Linked DNA regions of Homo sapiens: region 2 is reported to be linked to region 1. Evidence: microRNA targets listed by miRTarBase, many of them from high-throughput screens and not tested one by one. Region 1 holds a microRNA gene; the other region holds the end of a gene's coding sequence.

Region 1 (7,836 bases):
CAATGTCATTAAATAGATAAGAAAACTGAGGCCCCAGAGAGGTGAAAGAACTTGTCCAAGGTCATGCCAAGGCTTAAATCCAGGCTGGATTCCCTCTCAGCTCAAGGTCTTTCTCCCACAACCCAGCTTCATCAGACAGTGGTTTTTGTTTGTTTGTTTGTTTTGTTTGTTCGCTTGTTTTTGTTTTTTTGTTGTTGTTTTTGTTTTTGTTTTTTTGAGATGGAGTCTTGCTCTGTCGCCCAGGCTGGAGTGCAGTGGCGCGATCTCGGCTCACTGCAAGCTCTGCCTCCTGGGTTCACGCCATTCTCCTGCCTCAGCCTCCCGAGTAGCTCTGGGACTACAGGCACCTGCCAACACGCCCAGCTAATTTTTTGTATTTTTAGTAGAGGCGGGGTTTCACAATGTTAGCCAGGATGGTCTCGATCTCCTGATCTTGTGATCCGCCCGTCTCCGCCCCTCAAAGTGCTGGGATTACAGGTGTGAGCCACCGCGTCCGGCCAAGACGGTGTTTTGCTCTGGGTCTTAATAGTGTGGACTTTGTGTTCTCTTTTTTGTTGCTGTTGTTCTGGTTTTTGTTTGTTTGCCTGTTTTTATTGAGATGTAATTCATATACCTCATATACCATAATATTCACCCTTTAAAGTGTAGAATTCAGTAGTTTTTTGTATATACACAAAGTTGTGCAATCATCATCACTATCTAATTTCAGAACATTTTCAACACCCCAAAAAGAACCCTCATACCAATTAGTAGTCACTCCAGACTCCCCGCCACCTTCCAGCTCCTAGAAACCATAAATCTGCTTTCACTTTCTATGGACTTGCCTATTCTGGACATTTCACCAAAACAGAATCTCACAATATGTGGCCTTTGCATCTGGCTTTTTTCCCTTAGCATAATGTTTTCAGGTTCATCAATGTAGTAGCATAGGTCAACACTTCATTCCTTTTTATGGCTGAATAATATTCCATTGTATAGATACACCACATTTCATTTACTCATTCATTGGTGGATGCTTGAGTTCTTTCCACTTTTGACTATTGTGAATAATGCTGCTATGAACATTTTGGGCTCTCTTTTAGCCCCAAGCAACCCTGGTCCAAGTTAGACAGGCAGAGGGCCTCTTAGTGCCAGCTCACACCTCCCGTCTCCCCCAGGTGGAGCTGGACAGCCAGCCAAGGCCTGTTCCAAGCACTCCAACTTTCTCTGGCCAATGCTTCTCTCAATTTATTAGATCATTTGTTAAAGCTACATGGGACCATTGGTTGATACTCTAATGTATAAGACTAGCAAAATGAGAATTTGATGCAAACCCAATAAGAATGAAAATGTCTTTCAGCTTGAATACAAGCAGAACATTCTCAATTTGTTTCCACATGTTTGGAGACAACTACCTCTTCATAGGAAGTTACATAGGAGCCTCTTGGCTGCTTCACCCATCCAGGCCCTGCCCCTCCTGCTCCTCCCATCCCAGCAGCTTAATGAAGTGGGACTACATTTGACTCAATTCTTGAAAGTAAAAACAAGCCCAGAACCCAGCTTTACTACTAGTCAGATATGTGACCTTGGGCAAGTTACTTAGCGTCTCTGTGTCTCAGCCACCTCACTATAAAATGCAGATAATCACAGTGCCTCATCATAGGGTTGATAGGAAAGTTAAATGAGATAATGCATATAAGCACTGAGAACACTACCCAGAACAGAAAAAGCATTCAAAAACCACTGGCTATTATCATGATTATTATCCTGAAAGTTTCTAATACTCTGTCTAGACTCTACTCTGTTGCACTTCCATTGAGAACAGGGGCTCTCTGCGATATCAGGAGACTCTGCACCTAGCACACCCAGGCTCCAATTCCTGGCAGAAGCCAACCAATGGGCACACACTAGCATCCCAGGCCCCTGTGAGTGTGTCAGATGGAAAGGGACATACAGAGTGACTTGCCTTTTCACTGCCCCCCACAACCCCCGAGATGCTTCACTGACACAGTTTGTATCTTTTTCCACAAGAAAGAACAATCAAATTCCTTTACATCGTTTCAGTATGAAAGTAGGAAGTATGGTTGGCCTAGAAATAGGTGAGATCCCAAGTGCATAGGTGGCTGGGAGAGCTCAGGCAGGAGAAACTGGGTTTCAACGGAGCGTGGGGCCAGTCCAGGCTAAGGGAGCTCTGGTTCCAGGTCGAAAGTGGGGCCAAGACTCCAATGGTAAGGTTGAATCTTCAAAGGAACTGAGTAGGGATTTAGGCAGGAATGAAGTCATTGGAACCGAGAACAAGCCAAGTCACAACATTAGCCAACTCAAGAGCAGTTTGGGACAGGTACTGATTTTTTTCCTAATCAGACTGCGTCTGGTCACATTTACTTTACCAACTTGGAGACACCGTTCACATTTGTGAAATGAACAGAGAGAATGATTGTCCTCTCCAAATCCCCCAGGCTTAATTCATCATGGTTAGAACCACTTTATCTTCTCCTTGTGCTTGAGTCATTAGAGAGAGCAGGACACATGCATTTCCTTTAGTGCAATCAGGGGCTCACCAAAATAATTAGCAGCCAGTATTTCCAGGATCTTAGTGTCTGATAAAGACTACAGGTTAGGTGGTTCAAATCAAAGGGTGACCAGGGAGAGAAGACGCACATTAATTACTTGTAGTAACACTTGGACTCCCTTCCCCTTGTACAATTTATCTGCTAATTAGAGCTTAATGAACAATATCCATTTTCTTAGCTTCTCATTCTAGCCAAGCATGATCACCCGTGCATTTAACGACTGTCCCTTTTATTAATCATCCTCATGACTTCTCATGCAAAAAGCCCTCCTCCACTTGCTCTGTGAGTTCTGCTTCAGCCACCCCACTGCAGGACATAGGCCATGGGTACCCATTAAGCCCCAAACCAGTCCTCTTTCTGCGAACCCTGCAGGTCCACTCAGCTCCTAATAATAGCTAACACATATGAATGTGTGCTTCCTAGATGCCAGACTGTTCTGAGTGCTTTGCTCATATATTCTCATTTAATCCTCACAATAGGCCTATGAAATAGGCACTATTACTATGCCTGCTTTACAGATGAAGAAAGTGAGGCCCAGAGAGGTTAAGTCACTTGCCCCAGGTCACACAGGTAATAAGTGGTAGAGCCAGAAGTCTAACTTGGGCAGTCTGGCTCCAGAATCTGTGCTTTAACCACTGTGCCTCATGGCTTATTTGCAGGCCACACCTGGTTCCTGGCTCTAGAGCACTGGGTCTCAAATTTAGTGCATGACAGAGCAGCCAGGAGTATTAAGAAATTGCAGCTTTCTAGGCCTTCCCCTAGAGAGTGTGACTTGGCAGGTCTGTACGGGGCCCTGGAATCTGCATGTTTCCCAAGTGTCTCAGGTGATTCTAATGCAAGCAGCCCAGGAATCCCTTCTAGAGAAATCCTGCTGTTAACTCAGCCCTGCCCCTAGCCCTTGGCAATTTAAGGATGTCTAGGTCTGTCATCCAGTGACTCCTGCTGAGTTTGCTCTTGAGGGTTTATATACTAGTCCCTGCTGGGACTTTATAAACTTGTTCTAGTGTATAAGATCTTGCTTTGACCCTCAGACTAAACCCTACCCTCTATCACAGTTCTGGTGATGGGGTTCCCAGCCCAATGCCTGATAATAACCTGACCAGCTCCCTGAAAACAGGGCAACCAGAGGCCTGACTATGGCCACCTTCCTGCTGCCAAACTCATCCTGATGGCTTGCCTGAGTAGGGTTGCCTATTTATCAAAAATACAGGATGCTCAGTTAAATTTGAATCCCAAGTACATTCTTAGTATAAGTATATTCCATGCAATATTCGGACATACTTATACTCAAAATTGTCCACTGTTTATCAGAAATTTAAATTTAGCCAGGGGCCGTGTATTTTATCTGGCAGCTCTATGGCTGCGGACCACCTGTAGCTGACCCTAAATGAGCCAAATATGAGGACTTGGCATTGGTTGGTAATGGGATTTTCTTTCTCCCCTTCCCCCGAGCAAGGGGCTCAGTCAACCCTGGGGAGCAGGAACTATTGATTCAGGATTGGAGGGGCCCAGTTCTGGCTGTCAACTTGCCATCTGCCTCTGGCGGATACTGATTTGATATATTTCCTACTCGCTTTAGCCAGCCTCCTCTGTTTGCTCAGGAGATTCATAACCCATTCTTAGAAACATGCCTGTCTCCTGTTTGCCTGAGTAGTACGCTACTGTAGAATCGCCCCTGTACGTAGCAGTTTGCAAATTGACCCCTGGCATTTGAGGAATGTACATACTGTTTTGAATTGGGCTTATATTTGAAACGACTGTGTGTTTTGTATCCATGCCATCTTGTAGGTATGGTGAGTCTCTCTCCGAACCTCAATTGCAGCTGCCCTGGAAGACTTAGCTTTTGGGGGTCCTTCCCAGGACTCCCCCAAATCAATTTTGTATATTCCATGTAACATATCTTCTGAGTCTGACCATTATAAAGCTACCTCCAAATGCAGACAACATCTATCTAGCCATTTTCACATGATGTTATAACACACGAGCAGTCAGAAAAAAAAAGTATACTTTTATTGAAATAGCTTTGTCACCTAAGCCAGAGGGTTGGGACTCCCTTATTACATCTGTATCCATTCTAGTCAGAGGGAGGCCCATGAGTGAAAGGTGGGGAATTGTGTGTACAGGAACCACCTCCTCAAGCTAAGTATTACTGGAATGGAGAGGAAAGTGTGTGGAGGGCCCAGGGGGGAGATGTGTCTGTCTGGAATATTAAAGAAGCAAAAGGACAAACTGCAATAAAACACGCTAGCAGGACCATTCATTTGGCTGTAGAGTCACCAAAGGAAATCACTGGAACTTTCTGTAAGTGGATGCAAATGAGGAAACAATCCCACACTAGCCTGGGTCGAAAAGACTCCAAGACTTCACCTATTTTTTTCATTGCTGAGGCCAGCGCCAATTTGTAAGACTTAAAGCCCCAGGGAATTAGATTGAACAGATATTGTAATTCCAGTGACACAGGGCCCACAATGAGCCCCCATTTGGAACAAACACCAAAAACACTTCCTGAGTCTCCCCTCTGGCCTGACCTGCAAGGCTCTGATCTGAGGAGCAGCTGATGAAGTAGGCGTCAAAAAGAAGCCCCCTTCCTCTCCTGCATCCTCAGATAATTGCCTGCTGACAATTAGCTAGTAGTTCTGGTGCTTCTATCCTCTCTGAAACAGATAGTTCATAGTTAAGTTCCACTTTCTAGTCAAAATTGCCTTACGTCGCCAGTATGCTTCTCACTGTCTGCTTTCTGTTCTCACTGTGTGATGAAGACATACCCGAGACTGGGAGGATAAAGAGGTTTAATTGGACTTACAGTTCCACATGGCTGGGGAGGCCTCAGAATCATGGTGGGTGGTGAAATCCACTTCTCACATGATGACAGCAAGAGAAAAATGGGAAGAGAAAAATGAGGAAGATGTAAAGGCGGAAACCCCTGATAAAACCATCAGATCTCGTGAGACTTATTCACTACCATGAGAACAGTATGGGGGAAATCGCCCCCATGATTCCAATTATCTCCCACCAGGTCCCTCCCACAACACATGGGAATTATGGGAGTACAATTCAAGATGAGATTTGGGTGGGGACACAGAGTCAAACCATATCACTGTGACACATTACATTTTCTAAAATGAAAAAACAAACAAAAAAATAAAAAAACACATTCTTATGACTTTCCTTCCACTTGGAGATGTCCTTTGGCTTTCACAGAAAACTCAAGTAGTTTGATTGGAAAGGATTTTGAGGTGATCACCAAACCCTTTCCTTCACTCCTTCCTTGCTGTCACATTCTACTGCATTGGAGAAGGAAGGCTTCTGGATCTCCAGAGAGGCAGAATTCAGCTGCCCTCCATGTGTGAGGGGTAGTAATGACCTTAGCTTCTTTCTTTCTTTCTTTCTCTTTCTTTCTCTCTTTCTTTTTCTTTCTTTCTTTCTTTTTCTTTCTTTCTTCTTTCTTTTTCTTTTTTTTTTTTAGATGGAGTCTCTCTCTGTCGCCCAGGCTGGAGGGCAGTGGCGACATCTTGGTTCACTGCAACCTCCACCTCCCGGGTTCAAGTGATTCTCCTGCCTCAGCCTCCAGAGCAGCTGGGATTACAGGCGTGTGCCACCACACCCAGTTAATTTTTGTTTTTTTAGTAGAGACGGTGTTTCACCATGTTGGTTAGGCTGGTCTCGAACTCCTGACCTCGAGATCTGCCCACCTCAGCCTCCCCAAGTGCTGGGATTACAGGCTTGAGCCACCGCGCCTGGCCAGCTGCTCTTTTTCAATAGCATCTGTGTGTTACACACAGTGCCTCATGTCATTTATTCCTCACAGAAACCCAGTAAGATCATTGGCATTGTTATGAGGGAACAGAGGCTCTGAGAGAAGAAGCCATCTTTCCTATCAGGCACGTCTTCTCTTTCCTCAAACTTCCTCCCTCTCGTGTCCACTCCCAGTGAGGATAGACCCAGGAGCTGGGCTTGTGGTCAGCATGATAGGGGGATGGTTTACTCTGGGATGTAACTGACTAGCTGAATGCTTTCCCTGGGCTTAAGCTGGCAGAGAAAGCCCCAGGATCTCAGGTCTTATCCAGGTCCCGGAAGGTAGTCTTAGCTCCACCCAGTTTTCTTTGCACCAGCTGCCCTGGTGTGAAACGCTGAGGTCCTGGTAGTGCTGCTGTGCCTCAAAAGCTGAGCCAAAAGGCTGGCTGGGCACGCATGCCTTCCTCTACTGCAAGCACTGCTCCACCAACTCCCACGTGGAGACGGGTGAGGGAACTTGGAACATACCCTTAAGCATCCCTTTGACCTTGCCTTTGAGTAGGAGTCAGTTGGTCAAATATCTGGGAATATTTGGGCTGTTTTTCTTGTTGCCAAGACAACCAAGCCTCTCTTTTCAGGCTGGCTACCAACAGCTATTCTTGGGCTGCTTTGGGTAGTGCTTTTTGTTACTGCTCTTAAGATATTCTTTCCTACCTTCAGGTCATGAAGATACTCTCCTATACTATCTTGTAAAAGCTTTCTAGTTTTTTCTTTCACATTAGGTCTCTAGTCTATCTGGGCTTGATTTTTTTATGTACTGTGTGAAGTAGGACTCTAATTTTTATACATGTATTTGTGTCTTCTTAAGCAATATTTTGTAGTTTTTAGGATACAAGTCTTTCACTTCCTTGATTAATTTTATTTCTATGGGTTTTTTGTTTCTTTGTTTTGTTTTGTTTTTTGAGACAGAGTCTCACTCTGTCGCCCAGGCTGGAGCGCAGTGGCATTATCTCGGCTCACTGCAACCTCTGCCTCCTGGGTTCAAGTGATTCTTCCACCTCGGCCTCCCAAGTAGCTGGGACTACAGGCACGCACCACCACACCCAGCTAATTTTTGTATTTTTAGTAGAGACAGGGTTTCACCAAATTGACCAGGCTCGTCTCGAACTCCTGACCTCAGGTGATCCACCCGCCTCAGCCTCCCAAATTGCTGGTGTTACAGGCATGAGCCACCATGCCTGGCCAATTTTATTCTTTTTGATGCCATTGTAAATGCAATTGTTTTCTTAATTTCCTTTTTGGATTGTTCATTGTTAGTGTATAAAAACTAAATTGAAATTTATGTGTTGATTTTATATCCTGCAACCTTGCTGAATTTGTTTACTACTTTAACTTTTTGTTGTGTAACCTTTAAGGGTTTTCTACACATAAGATCATGTTGTCTGTAAGCATAGATAATTTTACTTCTTTTTTTAATTTGGATGCCTTTTATTTCTTTTTCTTGCCAAATTGCTTCAGCTAGTACTTTCAGTACTATGTTGAACAGAAG
Region 2 (7,836 bases), not on the chromosome of region 1:
ATGAAAATACCTATACTTACTTTTGAGCCAGAACACAAATATAACAAATGCCTTGAAATTTCAGGAAAATTTTTATAAAAATACAATTTTATAAATAAAATGAAACCTCATTGATTACGAATTTGAAACTATGGGAAAGAACTATTGTTTTAAAACAGTCACAAAAGGAAATATTGATGTGAGAAAGAAAAGTATAGTTTTCTCATGCCTGGTATTTTAGAATTTCAAACTATTGGCTTTGTGTCAACAGTCTCTGGAAGCTGAGTGACACTTTCTGGCTTTTAAAAGAAAACCATCTCTCATGTGAAAATGAGAAGAATTCCTAAAGGAAAACAATGGGTTTGGAGCAGCAGGAAAGAGATGGAGAAACTCAAGCTCAAGGGAGATTACCATGACCTGTTGAATGTCAGCAAAAATAAGGTAAAATTATTGGTTGTTTAGAACAGGTCAGTTTGTTTACTAAAATGCTATTTCTTGCCATAAAGGCTGGTTGGAAAATGGTAATTTGAATGTCTGGTGTGAGTAGAGTTTTAAAGATCAGACAGTTGATGCTCATTAAAGATGCACAAATGTTTCAGATGTGGCTGAACAATAGAAAATGTTCTAAATGCCACAAGGCCACGATTGAAAACCAAGAGTCAACAAATTACTCATGCTGGTCCTTCAAATTAGCCAATGGCATGACTTGTGTATGGTTCCCACCCACACTGAGGCATATAAAAGGCCCTCTGCAGGGGAAGTGTTCATACTGAAGTCACCTACACTTCCTCCTACCCAAGGACAACCTCCACAACCAACACCATGTGTGGCAGCTACTACGGAAACTACTATGGCACCCCTGGCTATGGGTTCTGTGGCTATGGAGGCCTGGGCTATGGCTATGGAGGCCTGGGCTGTGGCTATGGCTCCTGCTGTGGCTGTGGCTTCCGCAGACTGGGCTGTGGCTATGGCTATGGCTCCCGCTCCCTCTGTGGCTATGGCTATGGATGCGGCTCTGGCTCTGGCTACTATTATTGAGGATGCCATGGGAGACTCTCACCCTCTATCCTGTGATACTGAGATTCACTAATTCTGAAGCCCACATGTTCTGAGATTTTCCCTTGAGTGATGATATCCTGCAATGGAAGTCTAATATGGTCTGTTGTTGAGCTACCATCTAACCTACAAATATCTTGAATTTCCATCATGAAACGGGATAAGGTAAAATTCACCTGTCAGTTCTCCTTTCATCAGAATGATGGTGTCACATCATCTGCCTTGATGACTTTTATGATGGAGCTTTTTTCTCTGTTCACCTAATAAACACATTTAATCCAGAAGAGAAACCTGGTGTTTATGTCAATCATTTAATATTTAAAATTTCTTACCAATAGTTTTTGTTTCAGTTTGCATGAAAGCTAACAATTAAATTCTTTGGGAGATATTTTTCTTACAATTTCTAGAGAGGTTTCTTTGCCAATTCAAAGCTCAATTGTTTTAGAAAAGTAAGCTTTTTAATAAATTTCAGTTTCCTCCTTTGCTTCTAGGGGAAGAATTTATGTTGTGCTGAGTAATTCTCAATACTAAATTAAGTACCTATCATTTATATGTTGGGTTATGCATTGCCTGCTGTCTGTCACATAACAAAGAAAAAATTTAATTTTCCGAAGCCTTCTTGTGCATATCTCCTAAAATAAATGAATGCTTGTTACTATATCCTTCATTTTGAATCTTCCATTTTAAAGAAACTATTTTTTAATGAGACATAACCAAAGGAATAGTTTTATAATCTAGTATACTCTAAGCTAGTAATAGGTTATAAAGCTATTTGACCTGCATAGTGGGCCATAATAATTAAATAAAAACACTATTTCAGGTATAAACCGAGAAGCTTCAAAGTCTCACAAGGCTGCAATTCAAGATCTTAAATGGGGCTGATTGTACCCAGGGCTTATCTGGGGAAGGATCCATTTCCAAGGTCATGCCTTTGTTAGCAGAATTCAGTTCCTTGCAGTTGTAGGACTAAAGGGCTCATTTTCATTTTCTTGTTGGCCATTTGTTGCAGTGCCTTGCTAGCTATCTTTTGGAGGCAACCCTCACCTCCAAAAGGATGCTCACAGTTCCTTGTCAAAGGGGTTTTGAAACATAATTGCTTGTTTTTCAAAACCAGCAAGGGAGGGCAAGAGACTCCAGCAAGATGGGTACTACAGTCTTATGTAACATAATCACATAAGCACACATAATCATAAACATACACCATATTCTATTGGCTAAAAGCAACAGGTCTCACCCTCACTCACAGAGAGGGGCTTACACAAGAGTACGGACATGTGGAGGCAGCAATCACTGGGCATGTTGATTCTTCTCACTGCAAATTCAGTGCATACAGTAGTTTTCCCTTAACCATAATTTCAGTTTCTGTAGTTTCAGTTACCCAAGATCAGCCACTGTGAGAAAATATTAAACTATTTTCAGAGAGAGAGAGAGAGATGGGTGGGGAGAGAGAAAGACTGTATTTACATAACTTGTTTTTACAGTAATTGTTATACGTTCCTTCTATTATTAGATATTGTTGTTAATCTCTTACTGTGACTATTTTGTAAATTAAACTTTATCACAGGTATGTATGTATACAGAAAAAACATACTACATATAGGCTTTGTTACTATCTTGGTTTCAAGTATTCACTGGGCATCTTGGAACTTATCCTTTGGGATAAGTGGGGATGACTATACACCCTTCATAATAGGAATTAGGAAGTTGTCCTTCATTTTAAGTGCTCTTTGACAATTTGTACAATATTGGGATTGCTTTGTCTTTAAATATTTGGTAGAAGTCTCCTGAGAAATCATCTGGGTTTGGGCTTTTCTGTTGTTAATTTTTATTTTTCTTCTTTATTTAAAAACTGTCCCTTAAAGTCCTTTTTTAAAAAACTTTGGCCGGGTGCTGTGGCTCATGCCTGTAATCCCAGCACTTTGGGAGGCCTAGGCGCTCAGATCATGAGGTCAGGAGATTGAGATAATCCTGGCCAAGATGGTGAAACCCTGTCTCTACAAAAAATACAAAAATTAGCTGGATGTGGTGGTGCGTGCCTGTAATCCCAGCTACTCGGGAGGCTGAGGCAGGAGAATCGCTTGAACATGGAAGTTGGAGCTTGCAGTGAGCCGAGATTGCGTCACTGCACTCCAGCCTGGGGAGAGAGTGAGACTCAGTCTCAAAAAAAAAAAACCAAAACAAACAAACAAACAAAAAAACAGAAACAAACAAACAAACAAAAACACTTTTATTTTAGGTTCGGGGTACACATGCAGGTTTGCTACTTAGGTAATTTGTGTCACAGTGTCATAGGGGTTTGTTGTACAGATTATTTCATCACCCAGGTAATAAGCTAGTACCCATTAGTTGTTTTTCCTGCTTCTCTCTCTCCTTCCACCTTCCACCCTCCGCTAGTCCCCATTGTGTGCCCTCTATGTGTCCATGTGTTCTCATCGTTTAGCTCTCACTTATAAGTGAGAACATGCCGTGTTTGGTTTTCTGTTCCTGAGTTAGTTTGCTGAGGATAATGGCCTCCACCTCTATTCGTGTCCCTGCAAAGGGCATGATCTCCTTCATTTTTATGGCTGCATAGTATTCCATGGTATATGTGTACCACATTTTCTTTATCTAGTCTATCATTGATGGACATTCATGTTGATTCCAAGTCTTTGCTATTGTGCATAGTGCTGTAATGAACATATCCATGCATGTGTCTTTATAATAGAATGATTTATAGTCATTTGAGTATATACCCAGTAATGGGATTGTTGGGTCAAATAGTAGTTCTGTATTTAGGTCTTCTAGGAATCATCAAAGTCTTCCACAATGACTGAACTAATTTACATTCCCACCAAGTGTATAAAAGCATTCTTTTTTCTCCACAACCTCGCCAGCATCTTTTATTTTTTGACTTCTTAATAATAGCCATTCTGACTGGTGTGAGATGGTATCTCATTGTGGTTTTGATTTGCATTTCTCTAATGAACAGTAATGTTGAACTTTTTTTCATATGATTGTAGGCCGCATATATGTCTTTTTTGAGGAGGGTCTGTTAATTCTTTTCATTAACTTTAAGGAAATGAATCTGTTTATGATTTCTAAGTTGAAAGGTGTCCATTTTGGTCATCTGCACTTCTCCAGGACATTATCAATTTACGTACATAGAGCTCTGAAACCCAGTCTTATATGGTATTTCAAATGTCTTCTGTTTCAATGTTTATTTCCCTCTTACTATTAATTGCGCATATGGTTTCTCGATTTTTTTCTTTGATCAAGTTAGCAGGTAGTTTACAAGTTTTGTTAATCTTTCAAATAATAGCATTTCATGTGATTACATGTATTTTTTCTTTTTGTACCTCATTAATATCTCCTTCTCTATTTATTATTTTAATCTGTGTGTATTTTTCATTTACTTAATTGTCCCTTGGGAAATATTTGAGCTAAAACATAATTCATATTACATAATTAATGAAATATAATTAATATTTCATAATATTAATTTATTTTCTTCTATTTTTACTGATAACATGTCAGTGCTATGAATTGTTCCTAACCACTTTAAAAATATTTCTCATAGGCCCTGTTACAGATTATTTAAACTATCATTAATTATTGAAAACTGGTAATTATATTTGTATGTCTTCTTTCAACAAAGAACATTTTTTTAAATACAAGGCTTGTTACTTTCCAGGTTAAAGGATTTTTCTGTTCTTTGTTCTTGTTAGTAGTTATTAATATTGTTGTGTGACATCAGAGAGTACCTTTCCCATTATTTCTGTTTTATAAAACGAATCTTTTCTGCCGGACATTATGTATGACCTTTGTGTGGATGTTCCATGAGAACTGGAGAAAAAAGGTATATTATTTATTATCAGGGCATAAAGGTCATTATTATCAAGGCATAAAGGTCAGTCTATATAAATGAGAGCTACCTTTTGAATATATTGTTTAGATCTTATCTCTGCTTGTTTATTTTTTCCACTTGATCTGTCTTGTTCCAAGAGTGCTGCTTATTAGTGTGTTTCTACTTATGTCTCTCAGTGGCATGTATCTGGTATCTGTGTCTTCATAAAGGGGGTCTTAGCATTATTTGGTGCATAAATATACATATATATATATAATAGATATCTTGTGATTTGCGTGTCTCTTGCTTGGTAAGTTTTCTTCTTTATCACTTTTAATGCCTTTTCCCTCATTTCTATCTATCTGACAGTGGAGTTGTTATGTTTTCTATTGGGATTTTTTTCCCAGACACCTTTGTGCATGGCTTTAATTTTGCATTTTGAAATCATTTTGTTTCAGGTGTTTATATAAAACATATAGTTAGGCTTAGTTCAACAGCCAAATTTAAAATGTTTATTTTAATTAATTAAATTCACATGTATTGCCATGACTGGTATGTTTGGTCCTATTCTTTATGCTTTAATGAATACCCACAAAAATAAAAAAAATTTTTAAATGGTATTTTGATGGTTGGTAGTTATATTAGTGGCTATCTGGTTACCTTTGTATATATACTAATTTTAATGTTCTCTGTTCCCTCTTTTTAAATTTAACATTTTATTATCTGACACAATAGCTTATATTAATATTATTTAACTTCCTCTCGTCTATAAAACAACAATTAGCTTGTTCTCTTTTCCTCTTCCATTCTTCTTCTATTATCCCTTTGTCATTTAGTTGGATTATAACTACTTTTCCATCACAAAATATATTATTTATGTATTATTAATCCTCCCATCTAATCCCTATATTTGGTAGCACACCAAATTCATATCATCACACACATACATACACACATACATTCATACCAAAACACATATGTTTGTATCCCCACACACTCACAGATGCACACATACACACATATATATTCAATACTTTGCTTAACACTTCCCATTCATCCCTTGATTAGATGATGCTCACCCTCTAGGGTGTTACTCTATATGGGCTTGTGGATGCAAAAATGTCTACTTTTTGTATGTAGGAAGCTGTTGTTCTACTCCATTGATATATGGAGGGCAGCTTTGTTAAATATAAAGAACTTGGATAACGCTTTCTTTTATTAGGTTCTTTAAAATGCTTTTCTTTTTGTCTTTCTTTGAATGTCACTTTTGAAAATTCCGATGAATAGCCTAATTATTTTCCTATTGTAAATTATGTAATGGTTTTCCTGAGAGCTTTCAGTGTTTGTTTATCATTGAAATCTAATATTTTAATAGTGTTTATATTATAATTGGTAATTCTAGATTAATATTCACTGTCCCTATTTAGGACATGTCAATAAGTAATTCAAGTGAAAGAAGAAAACAAAACAAAACAAAATTAACACCCCAAATATCATAGCTAAACCATGACCAGTAAAGACAAAGGAAAAGATCTTGAAAGCAGCAAGAAAGGCCAGGTGTGGTGGCTAACACCTGTAATCCCAGCACTTTGGGAAGTGGAGGTGGGAGAATCACTTGAGGCCTCGAGTTTGAGACCAGCCTGTATAAGATAGTGAGACCCTGTCTCTAGTAAAATTACAAAAATTAGCCAAGTGTGGTGGTGCAAGTCTGTAGCCTCAGCTACTCAGGAGGTTGGGGCAGGAGAATTTCTTGAACCTGGGAGGCAGAGGTTGCAGTGAGAAGAGATCATGCCACTGAATTCCAGCCTGGGTGACAGAATGAAACCTGTCTCAAAAAACAAACAAACAAACAAACAACCCAAAGCCACATGAGTTTTGAGTTTTACTTTTAAGTCCTTAATCCATCTTGAGTTAATTTTTGCATAAGGTGCAAGGAAGGGGTCCAGTTTCAATTTTCTGCATATGGTTCTAGTTCTCCCAGCACTGTTTTTTAAATAGGGAATCATTTTCCCATTGCTTGCTTTTGCCAGGTTTGCTGAAAGTCAGTTGGTTTTAGGTGTGTGGTCTTATTTCTGAGTTCTGCGTTCTGTCCCATTGATCTTTGTGTCTGTTCTTGTACAAGTACTATGCTGTTTTGATTACTATAGTTTTGTAGTACAGTTTGAAGTTGGGTAGCATGATGCCTCCATCTTTGTTCTTTTTGTTTAGGATTATCTTGGTTATTTGAGCTCTTTTATTGTTTCATATACATTTTAAAATATTTTTTTCTAATTGTGTGAAGAATGTCAACAGTAGTTTCACGGAAATAGCATTGAATCTATAAATTACTTTGGGCAGTATGGCCATTTTCACATTATTGATTCTTCTTATCCATGAGCATCGAATGTTTTTTCATTAGTTTGCATCCTCTCTGATTTCTTTGAGCAGTGGTTTGTAGTTCTCCTTGAAGAAGTCCTTCACTTCCCTTGTTAGCTGCATTCCTAGATATTTTATTCTCTTTGTAGCAATTGTGAATGGGAGTTCATTCATGATATGACTGTCTGCTTGTCTGTTGTTGATATATAGAAATGCTAATGAATTTTGCACGTTGATTTTGTATCCTGAGACTTTGCCAAAGTTGCTTATCAGCTTAAGAAGCTTTTGGGCTAAAACGATGAGGTTTTCTAAACAAGGCATCATTCTTCAGTATGCCAATTGCATTTTTCAGCTCCAGAATTTATGCTTGACACTTTTTAATTATTTTAATCTCTGTTAAGTTTATCTGATAGAATTCTGAATTAATTCTTTGTGTTATCTTCAATTTCTTTGAGTTTCCTCAACCCATCTATTTTGAATTCTCTCTCTGAAAGGTCACATATCTCTGTTTCTCCAGGCTTGGTTGCCAGTGGCTTATTTAGTTCATTTGGTGGTGTCATGTTTTCCTGGATGGTGTTGTCGCTAGTAGGTATTCTTCAGTGTCTGGGCATTAGAGAGTTAGG

What was found. Region 1 holds the annotated microRNA hsa-miR-4330 (CCUCAGAUCAGAGCCUUGC, at 5,083-5,101, opposite strand). A microRNA usually pairs through its seed, bases 2 to 8, with sites in the 3' UTR of a target mRNA and lowers its output. Matches are read on the target gene's strand: a 7mer-m8 pairs with bases 2 to 8, a 7mer-A1 pairs with bases 2 to 7 and ends in A, and an 8mer does both.
Region 2: miRTarBase lists KRTAP6-1 as a target of hsa-miR-4330. Seed matches in the 3' UTR shown: 7mer-A1 at 1,087-1,093.

What each region holds. Positions count from the first base shown.
Region 1 is chrX:151,165,563-151,173,398 of GRCh38, reverse strand. MIR4330 (microRNA 4330) reads right to left here and starts at 5,177; the gene lies at 5,073-5,177.
Region 2 is chr21:30,606,870-30,614,705 of GRCh38, reverse strand. It overlaps KRTAP6-1 (keratin associated protein 6-1), which reads left to right and starts at 776. Exons shown (of 1, transcript NM_181602.2): 1 at 776-1,275. The coding sequence starts at 802. The coding sequence ends at 1,017.